Regions from separate parts of the Homo sapiens genome. Here region 2 is linked to region 1. Evidence: fine-mapped expression QTL. A gene starts in region 1. The other region holds a variant in brackets. All regions are shown on one strand. Distances are between the middles of the regions. Region 1 holds the start of P2RX4 (purinergic receptor P2X 4). Region 2 overlaps P2RX4 (purinergic receptor P2X 4).

Region 1 (16,300 bases):
GTGGTGGTGGGCGCCTATAATCCCAGCTACTTGGGAGGCTGAGGCAGGAGAATTGCTTGAACCCAGGAGATGGAGGTTGCAGTGAGCCAAGATCACGCCATTGCACTCCAGCCTGGGGGACAGAGCAACACTCTGTCTCTAAAAAAATAAATAAATAAAAAATAAAAAAGCTTTTCAATAGTTTTGCCTTGCTGGACTCACTGGGTTATGTCTGTAATCCCAGCACTTTGGGAAGCAGAGCTGGGAGAATTGCTTCAGGCCAGGAGTTTGACATCAGCCTGGGCAACATAGTGAGACCCCATTTCTTTCTTTTTTTTTTTTTTTTTAAGAATTTTAAAAAACGGGCGGGGCACAGTGGCTCACGCCTGTAATCCTAGCACTTTGGGAGGCCCAGGTGGGCAGATCACCTGAGGTCGGGAGTTCGAGACCAGCCTGACCAACATGGAGAAACCCCATCTCTACTAAAAATACAAAATTAGCCAAGCGTGGTGGTGCATGCCTGTAATCCCAGCTACTTGGGAGGCTGAGGCAGGAGGATTGCCTGAACCTGGGAGGCAGAGGTTGCGGTGAGCCAAGATCGCACCATTGCACTCCAGCCTGGGCAACAAGAGCGAAATTCCGTCTCAAAAAATAAAAATAAAAATAAAAAAAGTTAAAAACTAAAAAAAAAATCATAAATGTTACACATTTTCAACCAAGTAAAACGAAATAAAATATATAGATTTTACATTATTTCCATTCTATATATTACAATTTTTTCTTCGTGGCACAGTGACATGAAATTTCATTGTGAAATTTAAAAAGAAACAAACAAAAATTTGTTGTGAAAATCACATACAGGATTGATGAATTTGGGGCTGCCTCTTGTTTTCAGCAGTATCAGACAATTCCCCCACACTGCCTCTTGCAGTCACAGGTTATTCCCCATCCACCTTTTATTCTACGCTGCCTATCAAAGGGTGTGATCTCTGAGGTCTTTTACAGCCTAAAGACCGAATGTCAAATGTGCTAAGATGTCAAGATCCAGGTATTAGAATATGTCCAGCTCATCTGCAGGAATATCATCCTTCCCCATCTCCTCCATTTCAACAACCTGTAATTCCTCCCACCCACTGAATGGGAGAAAACATCTATAGATCATATATCTGATATGGAATTTGTATCTAGAATATATAAAGAAGTCTTACACTTTAAAACCATAATACAAGTGGCCGGCATGGTGGCTCACGCCTGTAATCCCAGCAATTTGGGAGGCCAAGGTGGGTGGATCATCTGAGGTCAGGAGTTTGAGACCAGCCTGATCAACAGGGTGAAACCCTGTCTTTACTAAAAATACAAAAATTAGCAGGGCATGGTGGTGGGTGCCTGTAATCCCAGCTACTACTTGGGAGGCTGAGGCAGGAGAATTGCTTGAACCTGGGAGGCGGAGGTTGCAGTGAGCTGACATCCCGCCACTGCACACCAGCCTGGGCAACAGAGAGAGACCCTGTGTCAAAAAAACGAAAAGGACGTTGGGTCTGATGGGGTTGAGAGGATTATCTGTGATCAACATATGGCCTGTTAGATAAGAGTCAGGGTTTTTCTGTTCTGTTTTTTTGCTTTTTGTTTTTTTTGTTGTTGTTGTTCCACAATAGATTCAGTCTCAAGCACTACCCAGGGAAAGCAACAGCAAAATTATAAAATAATTTATTCCTCACTTCTGCTATCAACTTGTTCTTTATTTAGACGTTCTGTTTCTGGAAGTATATATAATTATACTGTGTGCCACACGTATCTGTCATTCTGTTATACAATGACGTATTTCACAATGTCTATGTGCCAGATAAGCGAGTCTTACATCTTTAAATGCCTAAACATTTAATTTAAACATTTTTTCATTGTAGATTCTCCTAAACAAATGACACTGTCTCTTCTGACTGGCCTTTTGCGGCTCAAGGCCATTGTAACAAATGTCAGTCTTACATAACCATAACCAAATGACACCCTAAGGCACACTGAGGTCTCTAAACTAAATGGCCCCAGACTGATGAGCTTTTCGGAGTTCTTGGCTCTGCTTTTTATAGAAACATTTCTTTTTTATGGGCTATTTGTGTATCGCTGCTCTTAGTATTGGTGGCCTGGGGCAACGCGTCCCACCTCCTTCTAATTTGCTGCATTCAAACAAATGTTTGTTTTACCACCTACGTTACTGGTGACATAATACATTTTTTATCTGTTAGATCCTAGGGCTATAGACATAGTCTTTTCAATTCCAAGTTTCAGAAGGCTACTAGGTTAAGTAAAAAATGAACACTTATTATGAGATTATGGGGGTATCTCAAAGGTAAAGGTGAACGGGGGGAGGAGGCAGAACCAAGAAGTGGAAGCTCAACAGAAACCAGAGGCCGTTCCCTTCGTCTCTCTCACCTCTGTGCATCTTTGCCCGGCTGTTTCATACTTTTGCTTCTGCAGATTACTGTTCTCAGCTTCTCCATGCATACGATGGTTATGTCAAATCAGTTCCAGTCACCTGCAGAGAAGAAAGAGTTGTCACTATCCCAATGCCAAAGCCAGAGGAGAGACTGGCCCGGCTGGGTCAGTTTCCCACCTGTGGTCCAGTCAGCTGTGGCCAGGAAGATAAGGTCACATAGTATAAAAACAGCTGCTGCACCACCTCTGCGAGAAATGACAGCCTAGAGAAAGCAGGTACTGATGAACTGGCTTCACCAGCAACAAAGGAACCAGAAAATCGAAACTGCTCCAATCGCATCTGAACTAAAAAGAGGCCGGGCGCGGTGGCTCACGACTGTAACCCCACGCTTTGGGAGGCCGAGGCAGATGGATCGCTTGAACTCAGGAGTTCAAGACCAGCCTGGGCAACCTGGTGAAACCCCATCTCTACCAAAAATACAAAAAATTAGCTGGGCATGGTGGCGTGTGCATGTAGTCTTAGCTACTTGGGAGGCTGAGGTGGGAGGATTGCTCGAACCCAGGAGGCGGAGGTTGCACTGAGCCGAGATCATGCCACTGCATTCCAGTCCAGGTGACACAGGGAGACCCTGTCTCAAAAAGGAAAAAAAAAAGGTAAGCTTGGTGTGAGGGCCTGAGATGCTCCCCTGTGAAGAAGGAATATGACGTCTGGCCCCATGGATTCGTGGTATATACTTTGCTTTTCTTGAGACCTTGGTTGTTTACTCCCTGTTTACTGGAATTATTACTGAGACATAACTCACATACCATAAAATTTACTCTTTTTAAATGTACAATTCAGCGGCTTTTAGTATATTCACAGGTTCCGCAACTATCACCACTTTCTTTTCCAGCACATTTTCATCACCCTAAATGGAAACCTTGTACTCACCAGCAGCCACTTTCCATCCTTTCTTTCCCCCAGCCCCTGGCAACCACTAATCTACTATCAGTTTTGTTTTGTTTTGTTTTGTTTTGAGACGGAGTTTTGCCCTTGTCGCCCAGGCTGGAGTCCAATGGCGCGATCTCAGCTCACCGCAACCTCCGCCTCCCAGGTTCAAGCGATTTTCCTGCCTCAGCCTCCTGAGTAGCTGGGATTACAGGCGTGCACCACCATGCCCAGCTAATTTTGTATTTTTAGTAGAGATGGGGTTTCTCTATGTTGGTCAGGCTGGTCTCAAACTCCTGACCTCAGGTGATATGCACGCCTCAGCCTCCCAAAGTGCTGGGATTACAGGCGTGAGCCACCACACCCGGCCTCTACTTTCAGTTTCTATGGATTTGCCTATTCCAGACATTTCCTATACACAGAATCATACGATAAGTGCCCTGTGGCATCTGGCTCCTCTCACTCAGCGTGGTGTTTTCAAGGGTCATCCGTGGTGTGGCGCGTGTCAGTGCTTCCTTCCTGTGGCTGAATCATGTTCCATTGTATGGATGGACCACATTGTGTTTATGTGTTCATTAGTTGATGGACATTTAGATTGTTTCCACTTTTTGGCCATTATGAATGCTGCTATGAATACTCATGTACAAGTTTTTGCATGAACATTTTTCTTTTTCAGAGGAGGGGTGGAAGTTTATTTGAAATGCCTTAGGATGGGAAAGGAAGCTGTGCTTGGAAGAGGCCCAAGTGGGCATGGGAAGGTTAAAGAGACAAGGTCAGATGCCAAACATAGCTTTTCTTTTCTTTTTTTTTTTTCTTGATACGGAGTCTCGCTCTGTCACCCAGGCTGGAGTGCAATGGTGCGATCTCGGCTCACTGCAACCTCCCAGGTTCAAGTGATTCTCTTGCCTCAGCCTCCTGAGTAGCTGATTACAGGGATTACAGGCATGCACCACCATGCCTGGCTAATTTTTGTATTTTGAGTAGAGATGGGGTTTCTCCATGTTGCCCAGCCTGGTTTCGAACTCCTGGCCTCAAGTGATCCACCTGCCTCGGCCTCCCAAAGTGCTGGGATGACAGGCGTGAACCACGGAGCCCCGCCCAGAACATATCTTTTTAATTCTCTGGGGAAATCCTAGAAAAGGAATATCTTGGTCCTACGGTAATTTCTATGTTTAACATTTTGAGGAACTGCTGTTTTCCAAAGCAGCTGGCCCATTTTACATTCCCACGAGTAAAAAGCAGCTGGACCATTTTACATTCCCATGAGTAATGTGTGAGGGTTCCAGTTTCTCCACATCCTTGCCAGCTTTTTGATTGTCCATCTTTTTAATTATAACCATGCTAGTGGGGAGGAAATGGTATCTCACTGTGGCTTTGATTTGTATTTCCCTAACGATAATGATATCGAGCATCTTCTTGTGTTTATTGATCTCATGTGTATATCTTCTTTGGAGAAATGTCTATTCAGATATGTTTGCCCATTTTTAAATAGGGTTGTCATGTTATTGGTGAGTTTTAAGAGTTCTTACGATATCTGAAATACTAGATCCTTAACAGATATAGGATATGTGAATATTTTATCATTCTGTGGGTTTTTCCCTTTCTTGATGGTAACTTTGAAGCACGAACTTTTCAGTTTTGACAAAGTAGTCCAATTTATCTATTTTTTTCTTTTGTTGCCTTGCTTTAGGCAACAAAATCTAAATCTAAAAAACCACTGTCTAATCCGAGGTCACAAAGATTTGCCCCTATGTTTTCATCAGAGAGATTTATAATTTTAGCTCTTATATGTATGTCTTTGATCCATTTTTAATTTTCTCTCTTTCCTTATTATTTTTATTATATTATTTTTTTTAAGACAGAGTCTCACTGTGTCACCCAGGCTGGAGGGCAGTGGCACAATATCAGCTCACTGCAGCCTCCGCCTGCTGGGCTCAAGCAATTCTCCTACCTCAACCTCCCAAGTAGCTGGGATTACAGGCATGCACTACCACACCCGGCTAACTTTTGTATTTTTAGTAGAGATGGGGCTTCACCATGTTGGTCAGGCTGGTCTCAAACTCCCGACCTCAAGTGATCCACCTACCTCAACCTCTCAAAGTGCTGGGATTACAGGTGTGAGCCACACCTGGCCAATTTATTTTTTTAAAAATTTTATGTAGCTGGGACTACAACTACAGGTGCGTGCTACCATGCCCAGCTAATTTTTGTACTTTTTGTAGAGATGGGGTTTCACCATGTTGCCCAGGCTGGTCTGGAACTCCTGAGCTCAAGTGAGCCACCCACCTCGGCCCCCCAAAGTGCTGGGATTACAGGTGTGAGCCACCGCATCCCGCCTTCTTATTTATTTTTGAGACAGGGTCTCACTCTGTCACCCAGGCTGGAGTGCAGTGGCACAATTGCAGCTCACTACAACCTTGACCTCCTAAACTCAAGTGATCCTCCTGCCTCAGCCTCCCAAGTAGCTGGGACCACAGGCATGCACCAGCATGGCTGGCTAATTTTTAAAGTATTTATAGAGATGGGGGTCTCCCTATGTTGTCCAGGCTGGTCTCAAACTCCTGGGCTCTAGCAATCCTCCCAACTTAGTCTCTCAAAGTGCTGGGATTACAGGAATGGGCCACCATGTCTGGTCAATAAAGTTATTTTTTAAAAAGAGATAATCCAAGAGCAACAGTGTAAACAAAATAACTTTTCCAAATCATTTTTTAGGATCAGCTTCTTTGGTCAGGCCTAATGATGTTACCAACTAGTAATTTATAAAAACTTGCATTTCTACATTTTTCTTAACTGACCCCATTCCAAAACACAAGCAAACCATCTAAATTCAAGATTTGTGAGGTTGGGACTAACTCATTACTATAGGGTAAGTATGAATGAAGGCTGGAAATGTGTTTTGATTGCTGCCATTATTTTTTATTTTTATTTTTTCTGAGATGGAGTTTCACTCTTGTCGCCCAGGCTGGAGTGCAATGGCGTGATCAGCTCATGGCAACCTCCACCTCCCCGGTTCAAGCAATTCTCCTGCCTCAGCCTCCTGAGTAGCTGAGATTACAGGCATGCGCCACCACGCCCAGCTAATTTTTGTATTTTTAGTAGAGACGGGGTTTCTCCATTGTTGGTCAGGCTGGTCTCGAACTCCCAATGTCAGGTGATCCACCCACCTTGGCCTGCCAAAGTGCTGGGATTAAAGGTGTAAGCCACGTGCCTGGTGTTTTTTGGGGTTTGTTTGTTTGTTTTGAGATGGAGTCTGTCACCCAGGCTGGAGTGCAGTGGCACAATTTCAGCTCACTGCAACCTCCGCCTCCCAGGTTCAAGCAATTCTTCCTGCCTCAGCCTCCCGAGTAGCTGGGATTACAGGCACCTGCCATAAGGCCCAGCTAAGTTTTTTATATTTTCAGTAGAGATGAGGTTTCACCATGTTGGCCAGGCTGGTCTCCAGCTCCTGACCTCACATGATCATCCGCCTGCCTCGGCCTCCCAAAGTGCTGCAGTTATAGGTGTGAGCCACCGTGCCCAGCCATGTTTTGATTCTTAAGGAAATGATTTTTAAGTCCCCTTCCAATGAGGATTTAGCAATGGAGTTTTCTTCTTCTACAGATAATTTGAGGCTTCCCAATTGCACCAAACTCCATTTGGGCAGATACCTCACCTGTCCACTCCATAGCCCTAGCATCAAGAAAAGTGCCAAGCACACAACAGGCACTCAGTAAATTTCTGTCAAATGAATGAATAAAATACCACCACCTTTTCCTGAGACCATTTTGGACCAAGGCTGGCATGGGCATCTCTGTTCCTCCCTCTAACTTAAGAATTCCATCTCTTAGAGGCAGATGCTGCCTGTTTTCTGCAAATTTTATTATTCACCTTTCTATATTTGGAAAAACAAGTTGGTGTGGCTTACTTAGGAATCTCATATCCAGGAAATGAGCTAAAAATGTTGTATCAAAGATTATGCATAGGATCCACAAACTAAGAAGCAAGCAGATGAGAGCGGTTAGAGACATCGTGGTATATTTTCCGGAAGAAATGGTCCATGGATTAAAAATTGTCATTATGATGAGTCTGCAGTAACACAGAAACCACGTAGTGCGAATCAGAAAATGAAAAGCACAGCCATTGACTATGATTACAAACCAAAACTTTATACCAATTACCTGTTGGAATTTATGCTGCATGAAGGCAGGATATTTTGCTTGTCCTGTTCACTGGACAGTACTTGGCATAAAGGATGTGCTTATGAATATTTTCTGGGAAACTAAATATAACATTCACCTGTGAAAACACATCTGGGCCAGGCGCAGTGGCTCACGCCTGTAATCCCAACACTTTGGGAGCCCGAGGCGGGTGGATCATGGGAGGTCAGGAGCTGGAGATCAGCCTGGCCAACATGGTGAAAACCTGTCTCTAATAAAAATACAAAAATTAGCTGGGCGTGGTGGCGGGCACTTGTAATCCCAGCTACTCAAGAGGCTGAGGCAGGAGAATTGCTTGAACCTGGGAGGCGGAGGTTACAGTGAGCCGAGATCGCGCCACTGCACTCCAGACTGGACAAGAGTGAAACTCCGTCTCAAAAAAAAAAAGAAAAAGAAAAAGAAAAAACGTATCTGAAGGGAATGAACAAATACACATGCGGAAAATTGTATTCATGGGGTAGAACGGTGGCTGTTTCCCCCCCTTTCACTATTTTCTCTCCTAAAGTTGTGATAGCATTTTCTCAGTGGAAAGGATGACCACAGAATTATCTCCCCTGGGCTGCAACTAAGGAAGTATTTGGAGTGAGAATGCGACCAGGCTTCAAATCCAGGAGGGGTATTTTACAGGGCGTGTGGCTCTCACCCAGGGCTCACAGGACACCTGATATTTAGGCTGTTCCCCAAGAGGCTAAGGACAGCGCGGCCCCAGCTCCCCCAACCACAGCTGCCCAAGTTTAGGAGCCCGCACTCGTGAGCGATGGCTACTCCGCACAGCCCCGGGGTCCTCTACGGAAATCCCTGGCACCTATCAGTACCCCTAAGGGAGGTCGCTCGTTACCCCTCACTTGAACTCTGTCCCAAATGGGAGGTCACTCTCTCTTCGCGGACCCCATCTTCCCCGAAAGGGTCTCTTGTTCTCTCTGGCCCTCCTGAGAAGGTCATTACTCCCCAACTCGCCTTTTTTGTTGTTTTTTGGTTTCTGGTTTATTGAGGCAGGGTCTCGCTTCATCTCCCAGACTGGAGTGCAGTGGCGCGATCACAGCTCACACGGCAGCCTCTACCTCCTGGGCTCAAGCGATCCTCTCACCTCAGCCTCCCTGGGACTACAGGCGAGCGCCACTACGCCCGCTTTTTTTTTTTTTTTTTTTTTTTTTTTGTATTTTTGATAGAGACGAGGTCTCGCTATGTTGTCCAGGCTGGTCTCTAACTCAAGATTCCTCTCACCTCGGCCTCCGCAAGTGCTGGGATGACAGGTGTGAGCCACCGCCCCCGGCCCCTCGCCCGCCTTTTGAAGGAGCCTTTCGTCCTCAAGGGCGAGGCCACTCCCCCCCCGCGAGTTCCATGCCCCCTAGAGGGTCATCGTTCCCGACGGGGAGGTGGCGCCCTCCCCCGGGCCCCGGGCCCCGACCGCCCGTGCTGCCTCCTTCCGGGCCCTCCTCCGCGATGACGGCGCCGCCAGCAGGCCAGGCGGACTGGGCGGGGCTCCGAGCGGGGACTGGGACCCAGACCGACTAGGGGACTGGGAGCGGGCGGCGCGGCCATGGCGGGCTGCTGCGCCGCGCTGGCGGCCTTCCTGTTCGAGTACGACACGCCGCGCATCGTGCTCATCCGCAGCCGCAAAGTGGGGCTCATGAACCGCGCCGTGCAACTGCTCATCCTGGCCTACGTCATCGGGTGAGCGTGGGGCCGCGCGGGGGGCGCGGCGGGTGCTGCCCTCGCGTCCGCGCCGTGCGGCGGCTCATCCTGGCCTCGGTCACCTGGGCGAGTCCGGGAGCGGCGAGCCGAGGCGGTGACACCTTCCCTGGGCCCCAGCCGCCGCGCCGGGGCCCCGGGGGCGGGAGGCTGCTTGCTGCTGTTTTAAAACCACAGCCTGGGCCAGGCGCGGTGGCGCAAGCCTGTAATCCGAGCACTTTGGGAGCCCGAGGCGGGACCATCGCCTGAGCCCAGGAGTTCGAAACCAATTTGGGCAACATCGTGGGACCCCGTCTCTGCAAAAAATTAAAAATCATCCGGGCCTGGTGGCGCGCGCCTGGGGTCCCAGCTACTCAGGAGGCTGAGGTGGGAGGATCGCTTGAGCCCAAGAGGCTGAGGCTGCAGTGAGCTATGATCACACCACTTAACTCGAGCCTGGGAGACAGTCCGAGACCCGTCTGTTTACAAAATAAATAAAGGCAAAGCCTGGCTAGGCTGTTACCCTCTCCTGCCTGACCCCCCATAGTGCCCCTTGGCTGTAGGGGCTTCGCCCTGAACGTCTCAATCTTCGCTCTCCACTTCCCATCCTGCTGATTTGCTGACAAAACCAAAGCTTGGAATTTCCGCTTGGTTCCTTCTGGGTGGGTGGCTTTTGGTCATTTCTTTTGATCACTATGCGGTGTCACTATGTGGTAGTAGCGAGGTCAGACTGTAGCGAGTGTTTAAAGTTTGCTTCCTTTGTTTTCTGGGCTTGTGGGGCTTTTTGTGGTACCTGCCCTAGCCTAGTCAGTCATTCCCCATGCTGCCCCCTTAGGCTAGAGATGCCCTACCGCCCTCAGGCCTCGCTGAATGTGCCATTGTACTTGAAGGCACCTGTTACTTTTTTAATTTTTTTATTTTTTTGAGACGGAATTTCTCTCTTGTCGCCCGGGCTGGAGTGCAATGGCACGATCTCGGCTCACTGCAACCTCTGCCTCCCGGGTTCAAGCAATTCTCCTGTCTCAGTCTCCTGAGTGGCTGGGATTACAAGTGCCCGCCACCACGCCCGGCCAATTTTTGTATTTTTTAGTAGAGACGGGGTTTCAGGCTGGTCCTGAACTGACCTCAGGTGATCCGCCCACCTCAGCCTCCCAAAATGCTGGGATTACAGGCGTGAGCCCCCACGCGGGGCTGGCACCTGTTACAATTGAATACAACGCGAGAGAGAAGATGATAATTACCTTGCCACCTGGGGCCACTTTAAAGGCTTACCTGGGGTGTTCTGGTGTCTACAGCTGCTGGGCTGACACGTATTGCCTAGTGCAGTGGTCTCCAAACTGCACATTGGAACCATCTGGAAATCTTTGGCTCCCATCCCCAGACCCTTTTTTATTTTTTTGATGGAGTCTCCCTCTGTCGCCCAGGCTGGAGTGCAGTGGTGCAATCTTGGCTCGCTGCAACCTCCACCTCCCTGGTTCAAGCGATTCTCCTGCCTCAGCCTCCTGAGTAGCTGGGATTACAGGCACCCACCACCATGCCCGGCTAATTTTTGTATTTTTAGTAGGGACAGGGTTTCGCCATGTTGGCCAGGCTGGTCTCGAACTCCTGGCCTCAGGTGATCCACCCGCCGCAGCCTCCCAGAGTGCTGGGATTACAGGCGTGAGCCACCGCGCCCAGACGCATCCCCAGACCTTCTGATTTAATTGCTGCAGAGTATGATCGGCTGCCCAGGTGATTCTCATGTTCAGCAACGTTTCGGAACCAATGAACTGTGTTTCCCAAGTTTACCTGATCATGGAAGACTCATCTGAGGAATTGTTTAAAAGTAACAGATCCCCCCGTCTTTGGGGTGAGGTTTGGAATCTTAACACTGCCCAAGGGAAGCCCAAGCAGGTTTGGCTTCCAATATCTGTCAGCAGCAGCAGTAGATACAGACAGTATTCAAGAGGATGGCTTTCCAGGTGCAGACTCAACATCAGAACCACCTGGCCCACACCCAGATTTGGACTCATTGGCTCACACCTGTAGTCCCAGTGCTTTGGGAAGCCAAGGTGGGAGGATTGCTTGAGGCCAGGAGCTCAAGACCAGCCTGGACACAAGACCAGCCTGGACAACATAGCGAGACCCCATCTCTAAGAGAAAAATAAAGTTTAAAATGGTAAATTGTACTGATGGAGCAGTGCAAAAAAAAGAATTTTTTTTTTTTTTTTTTCTGAACACGGTGGCTCATGCCTATAATCTCAGCACTTTGGGAGGCCGAGGCGGGTGGATCACCTGAGGTCAGGAGTTCGAGACCAGCCTGGCCAACATGGTAAAACCCCGTCTCTACTAAAAGTACAAAAAATTAGCCAGGCCTAGTGGCTAATGCCTGTAATCCCGGCTACATGGGAGGCTGAGGCAGGAGAATCGTTTGAATCCAGGAGGCGGAGGTTGCAGTGAGCCCAGATTGCGCCACTGCACTCCAGCCTGGGCAACAAGAGCAAAACTCCATCTCAAATATATATATATATATATATATATATATATATATTTTTTTTTTTTTTTTGGAGACTCACTGCTAGCCAGTTAACTGAACTCACATCCCTGGTTGGACCTGAAGCATTTGGGGGCAGGAGCTCCCCTGCAGCTTTTTGCTTTTGGCGTTTGCTGCTAGTGGGAGGATCAGTGCACATCTACCTTAGGGTACCTGTAAAATTACAACTGCGGAAAATATCCATAGTGGTGTTGCACTGTATGGTAGCCACTAGTAACTTGCACCTGTTGAACACTTAACCGTTCCTACTCTACACTGAGATGTGCTATAACCTTAAAATACACACTGGATTTCAAAGACATAGTACAGAAAAAGAGGCTGGGCACAGTGGCTCATGCCTGAAATCACAGTACTTTGGGAGGCTGAGGTGGGAAGATCGCTTGAGCTCAAGAGTTTGAGACAAACCTGGGCAACATAGCGAGACCTTGCCTCTACAAAAAAATACAAAAATTAGCCTGGCATGGTGGCACACGCCTATAGGCCTACCTATTTGGGAGGTTGAGGCAGAAGGACTGCTTGAACCTGGGAGGTTGAGGCCACAGAGAGCTGTGATCACACCACCCTCCAGCCTGGGCAACAGAGCAAGACACTGTCTCAAAAAAACAAAGAGTACCACTATCACATGAAAACATTTTTTATTGATGACATGTTAAAATATTTTGGATATATTGGGTTACACAGAATATATCATTACAATTAATTTTTCCTGTCTCTTTTTTCTTTTTTTCTTTTTAAACGGCGCCTTGCTTTGTCACCCAGACTGGAGTGCAATGCACTGCAACCTCTGCCTCCCAGGCTCAAGTGATTCTACCATCTCAGCCTCTGGAATTATGGGACTACAGGTGCACACCACCATGACTGGCTAATTATTGTGTTTTTGTTTGTTTGTTTGTACAGATGAGAAATCTCATCTCTACAATCATGAGGTTTCCATGTTGCCCAGGCTGGTCTCGAACTCCTGAGCTCTAGCAATCTGTCTGCCTCGGCCTCCCAAAGTGCTGGGATTACAGGCATGAGCCACCGTGCCCAGCCCTTTCTATTTCTTTTTACTTTTTGACATGGCTACTAGAAACTTTTAAATTACAGGGTCTTGCCCTGTGGTAGCTCACGCCTGTAATCCCAATACTTTGGGAGGCTGAGGCAAGTGGATCCCTTGAGCTTAGGAATTTTGAGACCAGCCTGGGCAACGTAGTGAAACCCCATCTCTACCAAAAATACGAAAAATTAGCTTGGCATAGTGGCGCACACCTGTGGACCCAGCTACTTGGGAGGCTGAGGTGGGAGGATTGCTGTAGCCTGGGAGGCGGAGGTTGCAGTGAGCCAAGATTGTGCCACTGCACTTCAGCCTGGGCGACAGAGCGAGAGCCTGTCTCAAAAAAAAAAATATGTGGCTCGCGTTATGTTTTTATGGGACAGCGCAGCTCTGTAGGATTCCTTATGACGCATTCACTATCTCGGTCATGAGAATCTTTAAAGCAGTAAATGCTTTGCTTTTGTCCGTCTTGCTATAATCAAAACTGACTCAGGACCTGCATTAAGGCTCTTTTTTTTTTTAACCTCATCTCTTAACTTTTTGATGCAACTCATCTTAGTGAAATTGTGGTCTCCTCCTACAGCAACCCTCCCTCAAAAAAAGACCGAACACGCAATTCTCATCTATCTAACTCTGTTAACAATCATATGAGGAGGAAATAATCACATGATAATGAGTGGCATGAAACCCTGTGTCTCTAAATTAAGCAACTCACTGTACTTGATGAGTACATCAGTCTTCCTGCCCCAAGCTTTTGTGTGTCAGACTGGAATTAAATGGAAGCTTACACTGCAGCTGAATTCCTAGAAGCCCTGGACTTGTCAGGGGAAAAGCCCATGGGGGGAAAGCCCATCTCTAGGCTGGGCAATGAACTTGGAGACTGCTCGATCACACACACTCATAAGTAACAAAACCATTAATTTCTTTTCTTTTTTTTGGTGGAGGGACAGAGTCTCACTCTTGCCCAGGCTGGAGTGCAGTGGCATGATCTCAGCCCACTGCAATCTCCACCTCCCGGGTTCAAGTGATTCTCCTGCCTCAGCCTCCCGAGTATGTGGGACTACAGGCACCCACCACCACACCCAGCTAATTTTGTGTATTTTTAGTAGAGTCGGGGTTTCACAATGTTGGCCAGGCTGGTCTTGGACTCCTGACCTCAACAAAACCAGTGAATTTCTGAAGTCTCAGCATCTAGGACTTAGAAGAAGGAGAAGCCTAGCATTTCCTGATTCTATAAATAACAACACTGATAGTCTCTAGTAGATGTTTAACAGCAGTTCGAAGGGGAGGGGTTCTGATTTGTAGTACTGGCCAATTTCCACGGTGTCAGTACTTGCTCTGTGACCAACGATGACTCACAAACATTGTTGTAAACATTTGACCTACATTAATTCTTTTACCCTCACAAGAATCCTGTGAAGATCTACTATCATTCCCAGATTATAGATGGGAAAAACTGAGGCACAATGAGGTTAAGCACCTTGGCCAAAGTTATGCCTCGTGAATGGTGGAGCTGAGCCATGAACCAAGACCTCTGCCTCCAGTCTGTCCTAACCCCTATAAGCTAATGCCTGTAGATGGTTTTTTTTTTTTTTTTTTTTTTGAGACAGAGCCTTGCCCTGTCGCCCAGGCTGGAGTGCGGTGGCATCACAGCTCACTGCAGCCTCCGTCTCCCAGGCTCAAGTGATCCTCCCACCTCAGCCTCCCAAATAGCCGGGATTTTTATTGGACAGCACAGCTCTGTAGGATTCCTTATGACGTATTCACTGTCTCAGTCACGAGAATCTTTAAAGCAGTAAATGCTTTGCTTTTGTCCATCTTGCTATAATCAAAACTGACCATGCCCGGCTAATTTTTTATTTTTTGTAGAGATCCCTATGTTGCCCAGGCTTGTCTCGAGCTCTTGGGCACAAATGATCTTCCCCCCTTGACCTCCCAAAGTTCTGGGATTACAGGCGTGAGCCACTGTACCCAGCCCCTTTGGATTTTTAATTGTTCAAACTGGTAGTCATAGTCCCACTTCAGAGGAGAGAACCATATATGTGACCAGAATTCTTGGGGGAAAAGTAAGAAACTACTCTTAAAAGTTCCTTAAAGGGTAGAATTCTCTTTTCTAGAAAGAGTAGCCTAGGGTTGTCCAATCTTTTGGCTTTCGTGGGCCACACTGGAAGGAGAAATTATCTTGGGCCACACATTAAATATGCTAACACTAACAATAGCTGATGAGCTAAAAAACAAACTTTTTTTGATCACACAAAAAAAAATCTCATAACGTTTTAAGAAAGTTTACGAATTTGTGTTGGGCCTCATTCAAAGCCATCCTGGGCCGCATGCGGCCTGTGTGCTATGGGTTAGACAAGCTTAGAGTAGAGCATAGTGGGTGAGAGAAGAGGCTTCAGATGCTTCTGGCTTGAGTTCAAATCCTGACTCTGCCACTCACTAGCTGTGTGACCTTTGGCAAGTGACTTAACCTCTCTGTGTTTCCATTTCCTCCTCTGTAAAATGGAAATAATAATAATGATACCTGTCTCATAAAGTGGTCAGGATTAAATGAGTTAATACATATAAAGAGCTTAGATCAGTGCCTGGTGCCTATAAACACTCCAGTGGTAACTGTTATAATTTGTATTATCTCTTGGTGATTCCCATAGGTCACAGGCATTGAAAGTGCTCAAAGGGCCAGGTGCAGTGGCTCACGCCTGTAATCCCAGCACTTTGGGAGGTCGAGGTGGGTGGATCACCTGAGGTCAGGAGTTCGAGACCAGCCTGGCCAACATGGTGAAACCCCGTCTCTACTAAAAATACAAAATTAGCCAGGCGTGTTGGCGCATGCCTGTAATCCCAGCTACTTGGGAAGCTGAGGCAGGAGAATTGCCTGAACCCGGGAGGCGGAGGTTGCAGTGAGCCAAGATCACACCATTGCACTCCAGCTTAGGCAACAAGAGCGAAACATCGTCTCAAAAAAAAAAAAAGAGAAAATGCTCAAATGTAATAAAGACAGTATTCATCGAGCGTTTTCTCTGTGCCATCAGTGTGCTGAGTGCTTTACCTGCACCATCTCATTTATTTCCCGCAAACCCTCCTGTGGTTTAGGTGCTACCATCCCCATTTGGCAGAAGTGGAAATGGAGTCCCCTAGAAGGTACGTAGCTTGTAGAAAGTCATGTAATTAGTCAACATCGTACTTCCAGCCACTGGCCAGCAGAAGCTTCCCCATCAATTCAAATCCATTGAATCCTAATGGCAATTTAAGAGGCCTGTTTTATTTTATAGGTGGGTGTTTGTGTGGGAAAAGGGCTACCAGGAAACTGACTCCGTGGTCAGCTCCGTTACGACCAAGGTCAAGGGCGTGGCTGTGACCAACACTTCTAAACTTGGATTCCGGATCTGGGATGTGGCGGATTATGTGATACCAGCTCAGGTGTGTCTCCCACTGTGTCTTCTGTCTAACACTGACACCTTGCTCTTTACTGACTTTGCACACTTGATTAATGATTGACGTGGCCTGAGTCCTGACATCACCAATGCCCA
Region 2 (16,300 bases), 26 kb after region 1:
TGGGTGGATCATCTGAGGTCAGGAGTTTGAGACCAGCCTGACCAACATGGTGAAACCCCATCTCTACTAAAAATATGAAAAAATTAGCCAGGCGTGGTGGTGCACGCCTGTAACCCCAGCTACTCGGGAGGCTGAGGCAGGAGAATCACTTGAACCCAGAGGTTGCAGTGAGCCGAGATCGCGGCATTGCACTCCAGCCTGAGCAACAGGAGCAAGACTCCATCTCAAAAAAAAAAAAAACCTGAGAGAAGCCCCTTGGTCCCAGCCTTTCTCTGACAGCAGTGGTGACAGGCTCAGCTCTCCTCCGAGTGCAGCCCTGTCACTGACCTTGCTCCTGTCTCAGGGCTGGGAAGACTGTTGATGTTGTCATTCCAAAGATCCCACCTGGATCAGGGGAACATCCCCCACAGAAGGGTTAGCCATACAGTGCCAGATTCTCCAGGAGAAATTCACCAAAGAAATGGAGTCCCCTTGGGGACAGATTCAACTTGTATTGTCAGCCAGGAGCTGACGTGGCACTTCTGAGAAGAGGCCGGCGCACCTGCTGGCGGGTGCTTTGTGCACTTTTCAGACAGGTCAGGATCCAGCCTGTAGGCAAATTTACTTTTGCTTTGACCTGTAAAACCGGATCTGCCCAGCCTTCATTCTCTCCCTGGAGAACGCCTGCGGCCCCAAAGCCAGGCCTACTGATTTCCAGTGAGGCCACAAATCCCCTCCCTGGTTAGCAATTCAGTTTTCACCGCCTTGGGGGAGAGGGCCTGCCCTTCCTTGAGGGGAAGAACCTGGAAGGCTCGGCTCAGTGTCTTCTCTTGGAAGAGAAGAGTGTGCATGCAGAAGGGTGTAGAAAATGCTAGACGTGTTTCATCTTCTTGACAAAATGACATTGTAAGATGTGTGTATATGTTTTTAAAAATATTACATAGGGGCTGAACATGGTGGCCCACTCCTGTAGTCCAGCACAGGGAGGCGGAGGTAGGAAGATTGCTTGAGGTCAGGAGTTCAAGACCAGCCTGGGCAATGTAGGAAGACTTCATGTCTACAAAAAAAAAAAAAAAAAATTTCATTAGCCAGGCATGGTGATGCATGCCTATAGTTCCAGCTACTTGAGAGGCTGAGGTGGGAGAACCCCCTGAGCCTGGGAGGTCGAGGCTACAAGAAGCTGTGTTCATGCAACTGTACTCCAGCCTGGGCAACAGAGCAAGACCCTGTCTCAAAAATATATATAGGCTGGGCGTGATGGCTTATGCCTGTAATCCCAGCACTTTGGGAGGCTGAAGCAGGCGGATCACTTGAGGCCAGGAGTTGGAGACCAGCCTGACCAACATGGTGGAACCCTGTCTCTACTAAAAATACAAAAAAAGTTAACCAGGCATAGTGGCTCACACCTGTGTAATCCCAGCTACACGGGAGGCTGAGGTGGCAGTGAGCTGAGATCGCGCCATTGCACTCAAGCCTGCACTCGAGGTGACAGAGTGACTCCATCTCAAAAAAAAAAAAAAAAAAATATATATATATATATATATACACACACACACACACAGACACACACACACAATACATATATATATGTGTGTATATATATATATATAACATGGTTATGTGAGTATTTGTATGTATTTTATTAACAGTAATGTTATCATTGTTTTTCAGACCTGCTTTTTTAAAGGCTGCAGAAAACTTCACTCTTTTGGTTAAGAACAACATCTGGTATCCCAAATTTAATTTCAGCAAGTAAGTGGTGGCCAGGTGTGTGAGTTCACCAGGGTCTTGGAGAAACTTCTGGCTCTTCTCTCTTCTCTGAGGTTTTCGTCGCTCTGATTTTCTGCTTCCTCTCGACTTTAGGAGGAATATCCTTCCCAACATCACCACTACTTACCTCAAGTCGTGCATTTATGATGCTAAAACAGATCCCTTCTGCCCCATATTCCGTCTTGGCAAAATAGTGGAGAACGCAGGACACAGTTTCCAGGACATGGCCGTGGAGGTGGGTGCGGGCCCTGGCTCTCCTGACCCAGCCCTGGAGGCGTCTCGTGCCAGGTGCTGAGGAAAGCCTTGCCGTGTCTCTGCTGCTCATCCCCAGGGAGGCATCATGGGCATCCAGGTCAACTGGGACTGCAACCTGGACAGAGCCGCCTCCCTCTGCTTGCCCAGGTACTCCTTCCGCCGCCTCGATACACGGGACGTTGAGCACAACGTATCTCCTGGCTACAATTTCAGGTGGGCGTGAGCTTGGGCCCCTCGCTCATGTTGTAGGGGGTGCTGGTGGCTGCGTACGTGCCAGTGGGCCGCCCACTGAAGACCAGCACTCAGGCAGCACCCCAAGGGCAGGCTGCCGGTCCCCCGTCCAAGGCGGCGGGAAGGCCATGCTGGGAAAATGCCCTTAGTGGTGTCCTGCTCCGGGGCCATCCCGGCCCCCGAGACCCCTCCTTGCCCTTTCCTGCCGCAAGAAACATGTTGAGATGGTTCTTAGAGCAGCCAGGAGAAGCTGGGGGCTTAAGCTTTCCAGCACCTGCCTCAGCCATGACCTCCATTCACTGCCTCAAGGAGCGGATGATCTTGTGATCCTCCAGTCCAAAGGCCTCTGGGGCCTGGCCCAGGAATTGGTTTCTCAAAGGTTGAACCTGTGCCAGAATCTCCAGAGTGCAGGGGACACAGGTCTGAGGCCCCTGAAAGGCCTTGCTGGGTTCCCTGCTGCAAATGCTGGCATCTCGGTGTCCTGGGGCAGATGTAAGCGAGTCCCACAAACAGTGGCTTGCAACTACAGGACTTGATTCTCTCACAGTTCTCACAGTTCTAGAGGCCACAACCTAAAATCCAGGCATCAGCAGGGCTGTGCTCGCTCTGAAGGCTCTGGAGAGAGTCCTTACTTGTCTCTCCTGGCTTCTGGTAGCCCACGGTGTTCCTTGGCTTGTGGATGCATCACTCCAGTCTCTGCCTCTCCTGTCATGAGGCCTTCTGCCTTGTATGTGTCTCTGTGTCTTTTCTTCTTGTAAGGATATCAGTCACTGAATTTAGGGCCCACCCTACTCTAGTATGACCTCATCTTAACAAATTACGTCTGCCAATATCCCATTTCCAAATAAGGTCACACTCCCAAGCTTCAGGTAGATGTGAATTTTTGGGGACACACTGTTCAACCCACTACAGCTGATGATCTCATGATCAGAATCTATAGCCAGGTAAATTTCCACGTACCCTTTGTTGCATTTTTCACAGTCCTTAAAAAGGAAGCGCTCCAGGCCGGGCGCAGTGACTCACACCTGTAATCCTAGCACTTTGGGAGGCCAAGGCGGGCAGATCACCTGAGGCCAGCATGGCGAAACCCCATCTCTACTAAAAAAAATACAAAAATTAGCTGGGCATGGTGGCGCATGCCTGTAATCCCAGCAACTTGGGAGGCTGAGGCAGGAGAATCGCTTGAGCCAGGGAGGCAGAGGTTGCAGTGAGCCGAGATCGCACTGCTGCACTCCAGCCTGGGCGACAAAGCAAGTCTCCGTCTCAGGGGGAAAAAAAAGAGGCCCTGCAAGGACCATCCCTGGGCGCGGTCAGCGGTGCTTTGGGCTGCACTTGCCTCCCCCTAGTGGTGACGTGTGGAATCCGATCCATACGGGATCCTAAGACCTCTGTAATTGTGGGATCTGCTGTCCTTTTGAACCTTCTGGCTCACTGAGTAAAGCAGATATTTGAATTTTTCTTTTCTAGCAGTTAGATTTGTGTTATTCCATCTCTACTGTCACACACTTCTTGTGGAAACCTCAAGCTTAGGTCAGAGCCCTAAAACGGAAAGAACTCAGGACGCCTATCCCCCAACCTCGGGCAGCACCAGGCCCTGCCTGTGTCTCCCAGGCCTGGCCCATGGCGTGGAAGTTGTGGGCCAGATAGAGCATGGAGCTAGGGTGCGGGCCGAGGCTCCTGATGGATCCCTGGAGAACATGGGGCAGCAGATGGTATGTCTTGACGGTTCTTCACCAACCATCCATCCCCTGCTCATGCGTGTGCGCTCTCTCGCGTGCTCGCTCTCTCTCTCTCTCATATATGTATATGTATATATGTGTATATATATATATAGCCATTATATATATAGCCATTATATATATATATTTTTTTTTTTTTCTTCTTTTTTAAGGGAGTGACTTGCTCTGTCACCCAGGTTGGAGTGCAGTGGTGCGATTTCAGCTCACTGCAGCCTTTGCCTCCCGGGTTCAAGACATTCTCCTGCCTCAGCCGCCTGAGTAGCTGGGATTACAGGCGCCCGCCACCACACCCAGCTAATTTTTTGTATTTTTATTAGAGACGGGGTTTCTCCACATTGGCCAGGGTGGTCTCGAGCTCCTCACCTCAAGTGATCCACCTGCCTCGGCCTCCCAAAGTGCCGGAATTACAGGTGTGAGCCACCGCACCCAGCCATATATTTTTAAATGGTCTTACTGAGATGCAATTCACATGCCATACCGTTCACACATTTGAAGTGCAGAATTCATAGTTTTCACTATATTCACAGATAAGTGCAGGCTTCACCACAGTCGATTTTAGAACATTTCCGTCATCTCAAAAAGAAACCCTGCACCCTTCTGTCATCCCCCGGCCCCTGGCAACAGTGGTCTACTTTCTGTCTCTGCAGATGTGCCTCTTCTGAGCATTTCATATAATCAATATGTGGCCTTTTGCGTCTGGCTCCTTCCCCTTAGCCTGATGTTTTCAAGCTTCATCCATGTCGTAGCCTGTGTCAGTACCTCGTCTCTTTTTATGGCCAAATCATATTCTGCTGTGTTGACAGACGACGTTTTGTTCATCTCTTTATCTGTGTGACGAACGAGTGGTTCTTTTTGTTGTTGTTGTTGTTGTTGAAGACTGTGTGCACAGAATCAATGTTTCTTTGAAAAAATAAATAAATTTAAAAAGCCCTAGGTCAAGAGATTGAGACCATCATGGCCAACTTGGTGAAACCCCGTCTCTACTAAAAAATCCAAAAATTAGCTGGGCATGGTGGTGTGCGCCTGTAGTCCCAGCTACTCGGGAGGCTGAGGCAGAAGAATTGCTTGAACTGGGGAGGTGGAGGTTGCAGTGAGCCAAGATTGGTGCCCCTACACTCCAGCCTGGCAACAGAGGGAGACTCCATCTCAAAAAAAAAAAAAAAAAAAGTCCCTGCACTGATGCTGTGTTGGGGCTGGCTTAGTCCCCTCCTGCAATGCTGGCTGGTCACATTCTTACTGTTAGATGTTGGAGGTCAGGGTCCCTTGAGGGAGGCAGGCAGGATGTACCAGGTGGGATGTTGAGAGCAAACTGTTCAGGTTCAGGAGAGGACACTGGTGCTGGAGGAGGAGGTCTCCCTGTGCCCCTGTACCTCGTGGGCCCCGCATCCTCCTGCTTGCACAGCCCGCCTCAGCCAGGAGAGGCCCCGAGCCGCTCCAGCGTCCATTCAGCCGGCAGAGTGGACCATTCACCTGTGCCAGCTCCACTCTAACGTTCTCTCACAGGGCCCAAGGTCCTGCCCCAGCCATCTCCCCCTGATCCATCCTCCTTCCCCTCAGGTTTGCCAAGTACTACAGAGACCTGGCTGGCAACGAGCAGCGCACGCTCATCAAGGCCTATGGCATCCGCTTCGACATCATTGTGTTTGGGAAGGTAGCTCGCCGCCACTGGCTCCCCTCCGTCACTCCCTGCAGGGACAAGGGGCCTCTCCCTGCCCCTGCAGAAACACTTTTTTTCTTTTTCGGTGTCTTGGCAGGCAGGGAAATTTGACATCATCCCCACTATGATCAACATCGGCTCTGGCCTGGCACTGCTAGGCATGGTGAGTGGTTTAGGCCCTGCCTTCACCCTCACGGTGAGGTGAGACCCTGGGCTGGGGTCCTGGTCCTGGCCCTAGGCCCTAGACCTCAGATGTGTTTCTAAACTTGACCCTCCTACCTTCTTTCCCTTGGCCCCCAGCCCTCCTCCCACCTTCCCTTCTCCAAGACCACCCCCCTCAGGTCCCAGCCTTCTCCCAAGAGATGGGAGTGCCTTTCCATTCCGGTAAAGATTCCAGGCTTCTCAGGAAGGGGCACGCAAAGAATAAGATGGGTTGATGGGTTGCAAGCATCCTGGCTCACTCTCACCCTATGCTAAACTCAGGCGACCGTGCTGTGTGACATCATAGTCCTCTACTGCATGAAGAAAAGACTCTACTATCGGGAGAAGAAATATAAATATGTGGAAGATTACGAGCAGGTAGGCCCCTCCTGGCCCCCAGCAGGCACAGGCCTCTCATCTCTTGGGTGTGGGAGCCCTGGGCGTGGGCCTGTCTGGGGAGGCCCTTCTGCAGAGGCTGGCACCAGTGTGGCGTGGTGTCCCCGTTAACCCGGGCAGTCCTGCCACTCTCAGCAGCTGCTCCATCCCTAGGCCCCTGTACTAGATTGACTCTTTAAACCCAGCCTCGTTTCAATGAGCGACATCTCAGGTTGGTGATGATAATGCATGCTCTGAGAATGCCTGTGGGCACACACTACTTCAGTGCACCTTGCGGAACAGGAAGGGTTGGGTTCCAGGCCTGGGACCAACTTGAGAACCCCTGG[CGGT/C]GAAGTCCCAGGAGCGCACCTCCCTCCCGCCTGCCACAAGGGGTCCCAGGGGCACCTTGATCTGCTTGTGTCCTTCTTTGCAGGGTCTTGCTAGTGAGCTGGACCAGTGAGGCCTACCCCACACCTGGGCTCTCCACAGCCCCATCAAAGAACAGAGAGGAGGAGGAGGGAGAAATGGCCACCACATCACCCCAGAGAAATTTCTGGAATCTGATTGAGTCTCCACTCCACAAGCACTCAGGGTTCCCCAGCAGCTCCTGTGTGTTGTGTGCAGGATCTGTTTGCCCACTCGGCCCAGGAGGTCAGCAGTCTGTTCTTGGCTGGGTCAACTCTGCTTTTCCCGCAACCTGGGGTTGTCGGGGGAGCGCTGGCCCGACGCAGTGGCACTGCTGTGGCTTTCAGGGCTGGAGCTGGCTTTGCTCAGAAGCCTCCTGTCTCCAGCTCTCTCCAGGACAGGCCCAGTCCTCTGAGGCACGGCGGCTCTGTTCAAGCACTTTATGCGGCAGGGGAGGCCGCCTGGCTGCAGTCACTAGACTTGTAGCAGGCCTGGGCTGCAGGCTTCCCCCCGACCATTCCCTGCAGCCATGCGGCAGAGCTGGCATTTCTCCTCAGAGAAGCGCTGTGCTAAGGTGATCGAGGACCAGACATTAAAGCGTGATTTTCTTAATCCCTGTCTGTTGTCTCATAGCATGTGCTAGAACTTTCCTTCCTACCCTTTTACGACAACCAGTAAATCCACTATTCCGGCTCACTGTGCTCAGAAAAGGTCCATGGGATGGTCTGTTTCTGGCACTTATGCACATTTTCCCCTACTTCTTTATTTATTTATTTTATTTTTGAGGCAGAGTCTCACTCTGTCGCCCAGGCTGGAGCGCAGTGGTGCAATCTCGGCTCATTGCAACCTCTGCCTCCCGGGTTCAAGCGATTCTCCTGCCTCAGCCTCCCGAGTAGCTGGGATTACAGGTGCATGCCACCATGCCCGGCTAATTTTTGTATTTTTAGTAGAGACAGGGTTTCACCACATTGGCCAGCCAGGCTGGTCTCGAACTCCTGACCTCAAATGATCCATCTGCCTTAGCCTCTCAAAGTGATTGGATTACAGGTGTGCGCCACCACACCTGGCCTATTTATTTTTTTTATTACCCAGGCTGGAGTGCAGTGGCGCAATCACTGCTCACTGCAGTCTCCACCTCCTGGGCTTAAGCGATCCTCCTACCTCAGCCTCCCATAGTGCTGGGATTACAAGCATGAGCCACTGCACCCAGCTGCCTACTTTTTAAAGCCTAATAATTTGTCATTAGCTTGTCTTCCTGCACAGTTCACAGGACACTTTTTCTCTAGTGACATCTTACCTGTGCCTCCATTTTGACATAAAATTACAATTCTATGCTGTGGGTAACACAATTTTTGGTAACATGGAAGTGGCTTCCTCTCCCTTCCCTGTTTGCTTCCCAAAAGTCTCCAACCAAAAGCAGCAGCACGCATACCTAGCTCCGCACAGGTTCGAAATGTTCATGAAGCTATTTCCAGCTGCAGCTTCACACCAACTAAATGTTTGTGTTTTTTTGTTTTTGAGACAGAGTCTTGCCCTATTGCCCAGGCTGGAGTGCAGTGGCATGATCTCGGCTCACTGCAACCTCTGCCTCCTGGGTTCAAGCAATTCTCCTGCCTCAGCCTCCCAAGTAGCTGGGATTACAGGCATCTGCCACCACACCCAGCTAATTTTTGTATTTTTAGTAGAGACAGAGGTTCACCATGTTGGCCAGGCTGGTCTGGAACTCCTGACCTCATGATCCACCGCCTCAGCCTCCCAAAGTGCTGGGATTACAGGCGTGAGCCACTGCACCCAGCCACACACCAGCTGAATTCTGCATCAGGTATTCAGAATCCCCCTAGAGGAAGCAGTTTGCCCTTCGCCTCTGCCATGAATTCACTTCCAAGTACTGAGAGGAACCATTATTTTACAAATACTCTGCTTCTGCTGGATAAATGGCCAACCTGGGCTTTTCTTGCTTTTGGAAAAAAAAAAAAAAGTTTACCAACTCCCTTTATTGAAGCTCTGGTTCATGCTGCCTTTTAAAAAAAAATGCTTGTTGCCTGTAATCCCAGGACTTTGGGAGGCCAAGGTGGATCACTTAAGCGTAGGCATTCAAGACCAGCCCAGTCAACATGGTGAGACCCTATCTCTACAAAAAATTAAATTAGCCGGGTGTGGCGGTATATATCTGTAGTCCCAGCTACTTGGGTGGCTGAGGCCGGAGGATCACTTGAGCCCAGGAGGTTGAGGCTGCAGTGAGCTATGATGGTGCCACTGTACTCCAGCCTGGGCACCAAAGTGAGACCCTGTCTGAAAAAATAAAAAGTGCTTGCTTAGGCACATGGGTCAAATGAAGCTGGAATGTTTAGGAATGGTGATATGGGCTGAATGTGTCTACCAAAATTCACATTTTGGAAACTTCATCCCCAAGGCAACCTTATTGGGAGGTGAAGCCTTGGGGAGGTGACTGAGTCAGGATTGCGCTGCCCTCATGAATGGGGTTGGTGCCCTATACGAGGGCTAGAGAGGGAGCTCATCCCCCGTCTGCCTTGCCACTGTCTGCCACGCGAGGACAAGTGTTCCTCCCTCCAAAGGATGCGGCACCAAGGCACCCTCTTGGAAGCAGAGAGCAGCCCTCACCAGATACCAAACCTGCCAGCACCTTGATCTTGAACTTCCTGGCCTCCAGAAATGTGAGAAATCAATTATTGTTCTTTATAAATTACCCAGTCTTAGGTCCCTGTAACAGCAGCACAAAACAGACTTAAGGGCAATGGGTGTGTTTATGATCTTGCTCGTCAAGGAGTGATGGTCACTGGCTGTCTTCCGAAGTGGGGGAGATGCTGTTTAGCCTCTTTTCTAAAACAAATGTGAAAGCAAGCCAGTGTTGGGGTGAGGGGCGGGTGTGTTTCTAGATGCCATGAACACCAGCAGGAGGCTGGGTGTGGTGATGCGCGCCTGTCATCCCAGCACTTTGGGAGGCTGAGGCAGGAGGATTACTTGGTCCAAGAGTTTGAGACCAGCCTGGGCAACAGGTAGTGAGACCTCATCCCTACAAATAATTTAAAAATTAGCCAGGCATGGTGGTGCACATCTGTAGTCCCAGCAACTCGGGAGGCTGAGGTGGGAGGACTGCTTGAGTCCAGGAGTTTGAGACCAGGCCTGGGTAATATAGTGAGATTCTGTCTCTATAAAAAATTTAAGAATTATCTGGGTGTGGGGGCTGGTGTGGTGGTGGGCCCCTGTGGTCCCAGCTACTTTGGAACCCAAAGTGGATGGATCACTTAAGCCTGAGAGGTGGAGATTGCAGTGAGCCGAGACTGCCACTGCACTCCAGGCTGGGTGACAGAACGAGACCCTGTCTCAAAAAAGAAAACCAGAAGGGTTTTGCTGGCAAATTCTAACCCTTGGACAACTGACTTAACTTTCTGGAGCCTCACCTCACAGACGATGATCCATAAAACGAGGTTAATCCCTACCTCGTGGGGTAAAGTGTCATGTGGCATACCAGGCCATAGTTCAGTGTGACTGAGACTGCTCGGGGGCTGCCCACCTGTCTGGCCTCCACCAGAATCTTGCAATTACCTGCCTGCGAAAGCAGTGCTGCTCAAACTTCAGCACACGGACGAGTCACCTGGGGAGCAGGTTTAAGCCAAGCCTGGGTATCTGCATTTATTTTTTTCTTTTAATTTTTGAAACAGGGTCTCGCCCTGTTGCCCAGGCTGGTGTGCAGTGGCATGATCACAGCTCACTGCAGCCTTGACCTCCAGGGTTCACGTAATCCCCCCACCTCAGCCTCCTGAGTAGCTGTGGGACCATAGGCATGCACCACCACACTCAATTAATTTTTTAATTTTTTTTTTTTTTTTTAAGAGATGGGGTCTTGCCATGTTGTCCAGGCTGGTCTCAAACTCCTAGGCTCAAGCAATCCTCCCACCTTGGCCTCCCAAAGTGCTGGGATTGCAGGTGTGAGCCACCGTGCCCGGCCGGCACCTGCGTTTCTAACCCACTCACAGGTGACACTGGCGCTACTGGTCTGGGAGCCACACTGAGTAGCAAGGTCCTAGGACATGCTCTAAATTAGAGATTTGCTGAATACATTAGCCTTGACTTGGGCATCTGACCTCGCTGTCAGCCTGAGGAAGGAATACAGACATCAGGGCAGGCGGCCTAAATAAACAATCACCAATACAAACCTCCCCAAGAGGCCCAGGCTTGGCACCATTTTGCTGTCTGTTTATTTCAACTGTACAGAGAAGCTTAAACACCTGTGGAAAAACACGAAAGGCTTAGTTGTCTCTTAAGTTCATGTACTTTTTAGTGATAAATACACAGTATTTAACTTTATACACCTGATAAAAGGAAAATGCATAGTAGAAAGGGTCGGGAATGAAACAGAAGCATCGGGCATTGAATCGATCACAGAGTAGAAAAATCTGCAGTCCCCAGAAACTCGGCCTCCAGCTGGAGAGGGGAACCAGCGTACCCTGAAACTTCCCTAGCACCTTGGAAGCAAGTGGAGGTCATGGTTCTTCCACTCGGCAACGTGAAGCTCCCCGCTGGAAGACAAGTGAGAGCGACAGGCCAGGCCTGTGTGTCCACCTGCACAGGCATTCTCCTTGTTCCAGAAAGGCTCTGAGGACGGAAGACCTGCCTCTCAGGAAAGGCCAGACCAGTAGGGAGAGGCCTCCGCAGCCCCAAGTGTCAACAAGGGGCTCAATAAGGCTTTCTGGGAGCCACTGGCAGCTGGTGGGATGGAAGGGGGAGGTGGAAAAGGGCAGAGGAAATGGGAAGTGGATGGAGGGTTTGTGCTTCCTTCGAGGCCACAAGTGCAGGCCACAGGTTGCTTACACCAAATTGGTCCCACAGATGAGCTAGCAATGGAAGAAATTATGGGCGTCCTCTTTGCCCACTGGAAGAGCTGCTCATAACAGCACCTCCTTTCCTGACAGAGCTGGCTTTTGAAAAATCAATGTGCTCCAAGAGTGGCAGCTCAAATGCTCTGTGTTTACAGCCATCTTGGCTTATCCTTTTCATGTGGGGCAGGTCCTTTCCACAGCTTTCTTTGGTGTTTCTTCATTAAAAGAAAAAAAAAAAGTCATCAATGTGGGTCTCCCCCACCCCACTGCCCCCACAGCTGGGTGCTGCCTGATTGCTGGCATTCCCTGGAAGAAATCTTAGATGGAAGGTTCCGTGGTGGGGAGAAATGGCATTGTCTGATGCAGCTGTGTAAACAAGAGAAGCCCTGCAGAAGCTCTAAGCACTGCTGCCCCCTGGGCCAGCCACCAGGCCAGGCCAGAGCCCACACAAGCAGGCTGGGCCTAAGACTAGGGACCCGCTGGCTTTAACCTCTGCAAGGTGCTTATTGCAAACTAACCAAGCCCCATCTGGTGCCAGAAGGGGTGGAGCTATTGAGTCCTCTCCCCATAAACATAAAGCCAGGAGGGCAAGAGGAAGTGCTGGGTTACAAAGACCCAGCAAGCAGGCCAGACGACCCTCTCTAGACTACCTGTCCTTTGCTCTTCAAAACCAGCATTCCCTAATTCTGAACTGCTTATAAGATAGCAAAACAAGTCTGGCTAAACTACAGTCAAGAGCTTAGGATCTATGGAAGCCAAGAAGGCCCAGGGCTCCATGAATGGGCTGGGCAGGGGCACGAGGCCTTGCCTTTGTCTGAGAAGTCCTCACACCACAGCTGATCAGATGGAAACAATGGGGAAGCAGAGTTTCCCGGTGCCGTCTTTCCCCAGCCCAGATTCCACCAAGCGCTGGAAAGCAGAGCTGGGAATCTCCCAAGGCAGAGTCCTTCCAGCTTTCCTCCCCCTCAACTTCACACTCCCCTACCTGTGGCTCTGGAAGGAGTCACACTTGAACCTCAACCAAACTTCCCAATATCAGTTGGAAGTCAAAAAGATGAACCCTTTCTTTCTGGACTTTTAGCTACAAAGGGGAACTTCCTGTGCCAAGCCCTGGTTTCCTCATACCCCAACGAGTGCTGTGGGTTTCAACAGTCTTCTCTAAAAGGGTGCCCCAAGGTTATTGTGTGGAGTCTAGGGAAGCTCAGATCCTCAGGATGATCATTTGTGTGTTGGTCCAGTGAAAGCATTTCCCACCTGGCCCTCCAGAAACTGGGTATTTCATTGACCACAACAATCAGCTAGGATTTAAAATGAAAACAAAACCTTAGCAGTCTTTAGAATATACAGGTTATGAACTAGCTAAGCTGCTAATATATATACAGGCGGGCATAGGTTTCATCGGCTCTAACTGATCACATGCCTGAAGCTGTGAAATATATCCTGGAAGCTCTAAATAGTTTCTGAACTACTGTGCTCTAGAGTTCACTCTAGTTAGAGACTTGAAAAATGTTTTTGTTTAATCTTAAGCCATGTAATGTACATGGAAGCATAGGATTTCACCCTGAAGTTTTCGTAATTTGACAAAGAGATTTACCAGAGCTCGGTCAGCTATCTCAGAAACCTGCTTTGAGCAGCTGTCATGAAGAAACACGTTCAGTCTTTCAGGAGAAATGTTTCCCCACCACAGCTGCTGAATACCCTTCCAGGCTTGGAAAATCCCCTTCCAGCAGCACTTATTAAATTTCAAGCCCTTTCTGTTTTCCTGACTACAATTCTACCCATAAAAAATTTAAAAATCCTTCTTACAAATAAGTTGCATCAAAGCTCCCTGCAGCTACTGAGGGCCAGCCCTGCTCTGACTCCTTGAGACCACGGCTCTGGAAGGTGCCATGGTTTCCGGTTTGCACTAGGAGCCACATCTAGCCCCCTACTCCCTCTCAAATGCAGCAACCACCTCCATGGCCTCAGACCGCCGGAGTTTTCTGCTCGCCTTTCCACAGTTGTCAAACCCCACACACAGTCACTTGGTATATCTGACGTGGTTCTGAAAATCACAATGAAGGATTTTTGGCATAAAAACGTTTTAAAAAGCAATTGTCCCAAAATGCACGTGGGTTTGGGTCTGCAACTCCTCACACCCGCCTGTCCAGCCAGCCAGCGGCCACGGTCGACGTCATGGAGTCAAGTCCTTTTTTTTTTTTTGTCCCCTTTAAAACAACAAAGGAAAAAACAAATAACCAGAGATGACGATCGAGGCTCTACACACGTGCTGGGTTTCCGTAGGACATGCTGCTATGGAAACGCGGTGCAGCAGCCCCCCAGAGGCGACGCGGCGCGCATGCGAGGTCGAGCGATCCAGGCAGCTACTCGGGCTCCATGGCCTCCTCCGGCCGCAGTGGATGCATGCGTGCGGGGGAGCCGGGGGCGGGGGCCCAGCAACTTTCCACGCAGGGACTGCCTCTCACAAGAGCACTTCCTCCTCCCCCACGGGGGGCGGGTCGGTGCCCTGGAGGTTGTCTTCGCTGCCTTGCTTCCTGCTCACCGAACAGAAAACCAACATTAAGACTCTGAGAAATGCCAGCGAGGCCCTGAGCCAGCTGCTCCCACATCTGGGCCCCCTGCCCAAGTGGGCCGTCGCGCACCCCCTGGAACGTGATCTACGTAACCCAGTCTTTGAGATCCTCTCCCCTTTTCCTTGCTCACATAAATTTTTCAAAGGAGACTTTGCACGCAGCCCCTCTGTAAATGAAAGACCAGCATCATTTGCCAAAAATAGCAAGGACCCGTACAACAGTTCCAAAACTATGTAACACCAAAATTCACTGCACAAATCCCAAGTAGAAGGCACCCCCCACCCCACGGCGCCTGTCATACCAGGTTTTTAGGTACTTCGATCCCCCACTTAGGCTATGAGCCCTTACAGGGAAGGGACTGTGACGCTTGTCCTCAGTCACCAGATGTTGAGTTCCTTGTGTGTGGGGGTGATCAGAGCCTCCCCTGCCTGGCCTGGCACACAGCTGGCCCTCAAGAAAGGGCAGATGACAACTGCTCCAGGGATCCTCCCGCCTCAGCCCTCCTGCAGCCAGCCCTGAGGGAGGAGCACCTCAGACAGAAGAGGAGGCCCCTTCCCTCTTGGAAGTGGGAGGAGGAGAGCCCTTGTTTCCCTGAAGAGCCCAGGCTGGAGCCGCCGGTGTGACAGCGTGGATGGCGTGACAGGTGCGAGGGGAATCCCCGAGCCTATCCCCTCACCACCATCACACAGCTCCCCTGTTCTTAGGGAGGTCACTGGGCATGCCACATGGGTTACTGTCTGTCCTTCCCCCACAACAATCCGTGTCTCCTGTCCAGGAGGGAGACTGTCCTTACACAAGGGAAAGGAAGCGTGATGTCTGGCTTGCTATGTTTCTGATGGAGAATGTGGGTAAGGTCCCTGGGGAGGGGGGCGCTGTAACTAGACGTTAGGTCAGGCCCTCAGTCTCTGCCCTCGCAGTTGCCTGTTGGTAGGGGTTGGGTCTTACTGCAGACGGCAGGCAGGCCCCCAGTCCAAGACCCCCAGTGCCTGAATCAGCTCTGTGAGCTCCCATGACCAAGGCATCCTACCTGCTGGGGGCTGAGGGCAGGGGATCCCAGGTGAAGAAAGGAAGGGGCAGCATAGCCCTTTGGGGCCAGTCTCCATCTGCTGGTGTCTTGCAATTTTGATCTCATTGAAACGAAGGCCGGGCACAGTGGCTCATGCCTGTAATCCCAGTACTTTGGGAGGCTGAGGCAGGCAGATCACCCGAGGTCAGGAGTTCAAGACCAGCCTGGCCAACATGGTGAAACCCCCATCTCTACTAAAAAAATACAAAAATTAGCTGGGCATGGTGGCACATGTCTGTAAACCCAGCTACTCAGGAAGCTGAGGCAGGAGAATCGCTTGAGCCTAGGAGGCAGAGGTTGCAGTGAGCCGAGATCACACCACTACACTCCAACACTCCAACCTGGGCAACAGTGCAAGACCCTGTCTCAAAAAAAAAAAAGAAAGAAAGAAAGAAAGAAAGAAAATAGGAAAGAAACCAACAGCAGACTTGCTCAGAGACAGGAGGCAGCCCCGGTTTGGCAAACCCTAAAATGGAGATTGAGAGGAGGAAGGCCGAGGAAAGGCCAGCCCGCTGGGTTTCCACTCCATCATCCGTGAGGCTCACACCCAAGGCGGGGCTGCCCAGGCGTCTGTCTGGGCACAAGCTGGGGACTGTGTCTGCCTTCTGAGACTGCTGAAGACCGGTTCTGAAGGACTGCCATTTTCCCTGCTCTATGCTGGAGGGCAAGGTTTCTCTCAAAAGCATAAATAATTCCCAAACAGGTGTTCCTCCTAGATTACCATATAAGCCCTGACTCCCACGGGATGGGTGGCCAATCCATTTCTTTTTCTTTTCTTTTTTTTTTGAGACGGAGTCTCGCTCTGTCGCCCAGGCTGGAGTGCTGTGGCGCAATCTCGGCTCACTGCAAGCTCCGCCTCCCGGGTTCACGCCATTCTCCTGCCTCAGCCTCCCGAGTAGCTGGGACTACAGGCGCCCGCCACCGCGCCCGGCTAATTTTTTGTATTTTTAGTAGAGACGGGGTTTCACTGTGTTAGCCAGGATGGTCTCGATCTCCTGACCTCGTCATTCGCCTGCCTTGGCCTCCCAAAGCGCTGGGATTACAGGCGTGAGCCACCGCGCCCAGCCTTTTTTTTTGAGACAGATTTTTGCTCTTGTTGCCCAGGCTGGAGTGCAATGACGTGATCTCAGCTCACCGCAACCTCCACCTCCTGGGTTCAAGTGATTCTCCTGCCTCACCTCCCGAGTAGCTGGGACTACAAGTGTGCG

The links.
Region 2: its variant is fine-mapped to the expression of P2RX4 in whole blood (TOPMed, PIP above 0.99).

The regions. Positions count from the first base shown.
Region 1 is chr12:121,201,092-121,217,391 of GRCh38, forward strand. It overlaps P2RX4 (purinergic receptor P2X 4), which reads left to right and starts at 9,038. Exons shown (of 12, transcript NM_002560.3): 1 at 9,038-9,207; 2 at 16,043-16,190. The coding sequence starts at 9,074. LOC105370032 (a long non-coding RNA gene) reads right to left here and starts at 8,981. Exons shown (of 4, transcript XR_001749352.3): 1 at 8,758-8,981; 2 at 2,407-2,509. RefSeq lists a silencer at 8,744-9,483 and an enhancer at 9,814-9,863.
Region 2 is chr12:121,226,883-121,243,182 of GRCh38, forward strand. P2RX4 (purinergic receptor P2X 4) reads left to right here. Exons shown (of 12, transcript NM_002560.3): 6 at 1,651-1,731; 7 at 1,843-1,984; 8 at 2,081-2,217; 9 at 5,532-5,625; 10 at 5,729-5,794; 11 at 6,115-6,210; 12 at 6,641-7,224. The coding sequence ends at 6,667. CAMKK2 (calcium/calmodulin dependent protein kinase kinase 2) reads right to left here. Exons shown (of 17, transcript NM_001270485.2): 17 at 10,810-13,987. The coding sequence ends at 13,817. Among named protein-coding and RNA genes, the nearest start is that of P2RX4, 25 kb to the left of the region's middle. RefSeq lists enhancers at 437-486, 3,625-3,674, 6,860-7,487 and silencers at 3,384-3,678, 13,884-13,963. The variant CGGT/C (reference allele first, on the strand shown) is at 6,555.